Linked DNA regions of Homo sapiens: region 1 is linked to region 2. Evidence: fine-mapped expression QTL. Tissue or cell type: cerebellum. Region 2 holds a variant in brackets; the other region holds the start of a gene. All regions are shown on one strand. Distances are from middle to middle.

Region 1 (2,719 bases), 26 kb before region 2:
TGCCTGTAAGGGAGAAGTCAGCCCTACACTGACCCCTGGATTCTCAGCTCGCACCAGGCTCCCTCACACACACTGTTCTCCAGCCCCTTTCTGCTGTCTTTGCACAAACTTTGCCCTCTTCCTTGAACACTCTCCCTTGCCTTTTTCCTCATTTATGTCCTCTATCCCGCACAGAGCATCAGAATCCCCTTACAGCACAGATCACTGGGCCTGACACCTGGCTTCTGATTCAGCAGTTGTGACATGGGCCCCAAAGTCCACCTTTTCTTTTCTTTTCTTTTCTTTTCGTCTTTTTTCTTTTCTTTTCTTTTCTCTTTTCTTTCTTTCCTTTCTTTCTTTCTTGGTTTTTGTTGTTGTTGTTGTTGTTGTTTTGTTTTGTTTTGTTTTTGAGACAGAGTTTCGCTTTTTTTTGCCCAGGCTGGAGTGCAATGGCGCGATCTCGGCCCACTGCAAACTCCGCCTCCCAGGTTCAAGCGATTCTCCTGCCTCAGCCTCCTAGTAGCTGAGATTACAGGCGCCTGCCACTGGCTAATTTTTGTTTTTTTAGTAGAGATGGGGTTTCACCATGTTGGCCAAGCTGGTCTCAAACTCCTGACCTTAGGTGATCCACCCGACTTGGCCTCCCAAAGTGCTGGGATTACAGGTGTGAGCCACAGCGCCTGGCCCAGAGTCCACATTTTTAACAGGACCAAAGTGATCCTGATTCTGCTGGTCTGAGGACCACACTTTGAGAACTACTGCTTTCAAGATGAGCTGCACTTCTATTTCCTCTACCAAGCCTCTTCTGTCTCCTAATTGGGTCACATTTCTCCTTCACACGCTCTAGAAGGACCAAAGGCCACTGCTTTATCAGTGTGATTTTTTTTTTTTTTTTTTTTTGCATTAAAAACTTCTTATCTTCTTCTTCTTATTTTTGAGACGGTCTACCTCTGTCAGGCTGGAGTGCAGTGGTGCTATCACGGCTCACTGCAGCTTCGACCTCCTGGGCTCAAGCGATCCTCCCACCTCAGCCTCTTGAGTAGCTGGGACCACAGGTGTGTGCCACCACGCCTGGCTAATTTTTTATTTTTATTTTGTAGAGATGGGGTTTCGCCATGTTGCCCAGGCTGGGCTCGAACTCCTGGATTCAAGTGATCCTCCCCTCTTGGCCTCCCAAAGTGTTGGAATTACAAGCATATGCCACTGCATCCAGCCCTGTGTGATTAATTTATGTTTCTACCATTTGACTGTGAGCTCCACGTGTCTTTTCGCTAGCTGTGGGATCTGCACCCAGTGCATACAGGTGGTCGGTGAACAGGTGCTGACAGCAGTTCCAAAAAGTTGAATGAATCACCTTAACCTTCCAGCAACAGCGAATGCGAGTGTAAAATATTATCACCTCACCAACACTGTATTTTTTTTTTTTTTAACTCTTCCAGCTCTAAATTCCACAACTCCTCCTATACCTCTTGCTTCCATAGAAGCCCAAGGAGCCCGGCAGAAACTGCTTTGAGCAACCAGGAACACCCGGCCCTAAGTCCCGCCCCGCGCCTCTCCCCACCTCAAGTCCCGCCTCTGGCTATAAGCCCCGCCCCGCCCCGATCCCGGCCTCCGATCCCAGATCTCGCACCGCCCCGCCCCCTGTCTCCGCCCCAGACACCACCCCGCCTCGTGCTCTAAGCCCCGCCCCTCTCTCTGGCTTTAGGCCGCTCCCAAGCCCAGAGCTGCTCTGCGCAAGCGCGACCGACCGAGCAGCTCCGAGGAGTCCGCCCGGAAACAAACATTCCCCAGGGCAATGTCACGACTTGGTCTTCCCGAGGAGCCAGTCAGGTAAAGGCTTTCCGGGCCCTGGCACCCCGAGCTTGGTCAGGCCCGGCCTTGATCGTAGCGGAGGCCACCGGGGCCTTTTGGCCGGGACTGATTTTGCAGCTCCCGCCAGTCCACCTGCGAGCGCCGGATGGGGGAGCACTCGCCTCCAGCAACCCGCAGGGTCCCCGAACCTTTGCACTGCTCTGGCCAGGAACAGAGCCGGCTTAAGCCAGTATGGTTTACATACACGCTGCTCCCCTTCCCAGCCGGCTTGGCTGTTCTGCAATCCGCGTCTCCAGAGTTGGACCCCAGGACCCCCGACAGTGGCACAGACCCGCAGCAGGCAGCCCCGGATTCAAGTCCCCCGGTGGCTACTTTCAGTTGTGACCTTGGGTCTGTCAGTTTCGTAAACTCTCTGAGCCTGGAGGTGACCCTGTGATCACTTGCCGGGCTGTTGTGAGGATAAAATGAGAAACGTCAAAATTGAGACCATGCTCAGAACGGGGTGGCTGCTACTGCTGTTGATACCTTGGTGATTATTCCAGCGGCCAGCCCCTAAAGTGGACAGATAACGTTTTTGCAGCCTTTTACTTTGGCTGGTTTGTCTGGTCAGTTCTGTGGTTTCCGGGTGGTTAAAAGCCACCAGCCCACAGTTTCCTTTTCTGGAGGCTGGCCTGCGTGCATCCAGATGCACTGTGCAATCCCTGTGCCAGCATTCACTGATTTTTTTCAGGCCATTTGGTCTTTGAAATACACTGCCGTTACCCAACCACATCTGGTGAGCACCCTGCCACCTAGAAAGAGGCAAAAAATAGCAAATACCTCCTGCAAACAACTGCTTATCTAATGATGGGGAGATTTATGACAGTGGTTACCATTCCCTGAGCACCAGCTGTGTGCCAGCCACAGTATATGAACTGCATCATTTAAT
Region 2 (3,021 bases):
GCACACTTCTTCAACTACCCCTTACTTTATGTTAATAGCATGGACACCACTTCATTGCATTCCTTTGCATATCTGTATAATACATGTGTATCTCTGTGTTTATTCCAGACCTAACCCTGGAAGGGACAGATCCATGCACCATAAGACCCCTCACTCTGAGTTCCCCTATCCTCAAATGAATGGACCAAGGATCAATGGCAAACCCATAGGTGGCCCCTAATTCAGTGGCTTATGACTTGTATGATCTACTTAAATACCGGATCTAAAGTCCATTCGATTTTCAAAAAACTTTGAGCAATGCCAGAAGGTAACATATGCTTGGGAAATATTTTGGCCCATGTACATACTGATGAGTGAGCCCAAGAAGTCAGAGTTTAAAGTTAGTTGGCCAATAATGGTAGAAATATGTCTTTGCTCTAAGCAGTAGTTGTCGTGTCAGGGATTTCATCAGATACAACTGGAAGAAGAATATTTCCTGAAGCAATTTATCCTTCTTAAAGATCTCATACTCAAGCCCATAAATTTTAATTTTATAGGTGTAGACTTGGTTTAATATTTCCTCAACTATAACTTTCCTCAATTTTCATTTTAAATCTTCAAGCCCTTACTCTCTACTTCATCATGGATGTCAATGACATCTCTGTGTCAATTTTTTTCTCTTTTTCACTTATCATTTATGTGAAACTTGAAGTTTTCCTTCCGATTATTTTCTTCTCCTCACTTTCTTCACGTGTTTCTTCACTCTAGTCTCATTTCATCTTCTTCCATCAGCCTTCAGTTTCAGCTATATTTCACGGATCCCAAACAGCATTCTGAAAATTTGCCTACGTTATTTTTTCTGACTATAAATCTGTATGGTCTAATATCAGGCTAAATGATAAACTGAAGATAGTGGGAACATTTTGCTAGAACTCTCAACCTGTTACAAACATATATTAACCCATCTTAGCCCCCTGTAGTGAATTGAATAGTGGTCCCGAAAAGATATGTCCAAATCCTAACTCCAATGCCTGTGAATGTGAGCTTATTTGGAAATAAGATCTTTGCAGAGGTAGTTAAGTTAAAGACCTTGAAATGAGATCATCCTAGATTTACGGTAATCCCTAAATCCAATGACTGGTGTCTTTATAAATAAAAAAAGAGGGAAATTTGAGACACACAGTTGCAAGAGACACAGGGAAGAAGCCATGTGAAGACAGAGGCAGAGATTAGAGTTATGTTGCCGCGAGCCAAGGAACACCAGGAGCCACCGGAAGCTGGAAGAGGAAAGGAAGGGTCCTCCCCACAGCCTTTGGAGGGAGGGTGATGCTGCCAACGCCTTGATTTCAGATTTCTGGCCTTCAGAACCGTGAGATAACAAATTTCGGTTGTTTTAAGCTACCAAGTTTGTGGCAAATTGTTAGGACAGCCCTAGGAAACTACACAGCCCCCTTCTGAAACATCTCTTCATTTTGAGAAATAGCTCTGCCCTCTGTCTTGGGATTACCATGGAAACAGGACATTGCTGACCTCCCAGCATAAACTCAGTTAATCAGATTTAGTCCCTCAGTAATTCCCTTGGGATTAGTACCAAGCAACA[G/C]CAGAGTCTGTCTGCCTGCCCTCCGGAAGAGAGCATATGTGGGTGTTTGTGTTCCACCATTTGCCCTGGGAAGCAGAGAAAGCTTGTCTGCAACAAGAGAGGAGAACAAAGTCAATGACCAGAATGGAAGAGCAATGAAAGTCAGTCGTGTGTTGTGAAGGCATTAGAATCCCTGGATGTTTGTTCTTGAGACCCGGATGTTTCCATGGTTTCCATGAAATGCTCCCACCCTTCGTAGTTAAATTCCCTAACGTGCTTGAGCAAGCTTAGAAAGAGTTCTATAACTTTCACTGGAAAATGTCCTAACATATCACAAACACACGTCTTTATATCCTTCTCTTTTCTCTTTTCTCACACCCTTTTACACTATGGGGACCTTAGGTTCTATTCTTTCTTAACTTAGAATGGACCTATCCACATGTAGAGTCTTCTGGAAGTGCAATATGGTATGGTAGGAAAGACTGAAGACAGAAAACCCAGTCTCCTCTCATCACTAGCTATATGACCCATTGGACAGATTAAGCCCATATGCTAATTGCAAGAAAAATTAGGAAAATAGGCATCTGACATTTTCTCCTCCACTGTGAGAGGCAGACCCGGCTAACAAGGAAGAGGATGATGGGAAACTCATTGTCTGCCACATCATGTTTATTATATTTTATTTTATAAATAGAAACAAGGTCCTGCTATGTTGCAAAGGCTGGTCTCAAACTCCTGGCTCCAAGCAATCCTCCCACCTGAGCCTTCCAAAGTGCTAGTATTACAAGCATAAGCCGCCATGCCTGGCCTGCCTGCCACATATAGAAGTAAAACTGCTCTGACAGTTAAGTATGTGAGGGGGACAGATTACTGCTTGCTTGGCTCTTCTCACCTCTCCCCCACCACAGTTGCCCCCATGACTCCTCTATAGACTGCCTTTAGGTTCTATAAGGAACAAAGAGGGACAATGGAGACCCAAGTCAACTCACTGATGTCTTTGATAACATATGTGTCCTTTGCACCTCTTCTTTGTTGGTCCAGTAAACAGAAGCTAAAGCAAATGTATCAAAGTCTGAATCAACATTCCTGGAGAAGCCTTTGGGTCTGGGCTAGCCCATGAGATAACTGTGAAGCTGTCACAAGACACCCCTGGCTACAGAGCACCTGTAATGTGGCTAGTCCAAATTGAGATGCTGTAGGAGTCAAATACACACTGGATTTCAAAGACTTACTATTGGCTACATGGTGAAATGATAATGTTTTAGAGATGTTGGGTTAAATATAGGGTGAAAATTAATTTATCCTGTTTCTTAGTACTTTTTTGAATGTGGCTACTAGAAAATTTAAATTTACATACATGGCTTACAGTATATTTCTACTGGACAGAGTGGCTCTAGATGACTCATGTGTGGCCAGGACACTAGGACACTGGAGAAGTAATGATCACCCCATGTACAGATACA

What was found. PIP is the estimated chance that this variant, and not a neighbour inherited with it, causes the effect.
Region 1: NUDT7 starts here. The variant in region 2 is fine-mapped to the expression of NUDT7 in cerebellum (GTEx, PIP 0.92).

The regions. Positions count from the first base shown.
Region 1 is chr16:77,720,809-77,723,527 of GRCh38, forward strand. NUDT7 (nudix hydrolase 7) reads left to right here and starts at 1,706. Exons shown (of 4, transcript NM_001105663.3): 1 at 1,706-1,809. The coding sequence starts at 1,775. RefSeq lists an enhancer at 1,544-1,838 and a silencer at 1,552-1,681.
Region 2 is chr16:77,747,063-77,750,083 of GRCh38, forward strand. The region is part of intron 5 of LOC107984878 (a long non-coding RNA gene); the gene reads right to left. Among named protein-coding and RNA genes, the nearest start is that of NUDT7, 26 kb to the left of the region's middle. The variant G/C (reference allele first, on the strand shown) is at 1,580.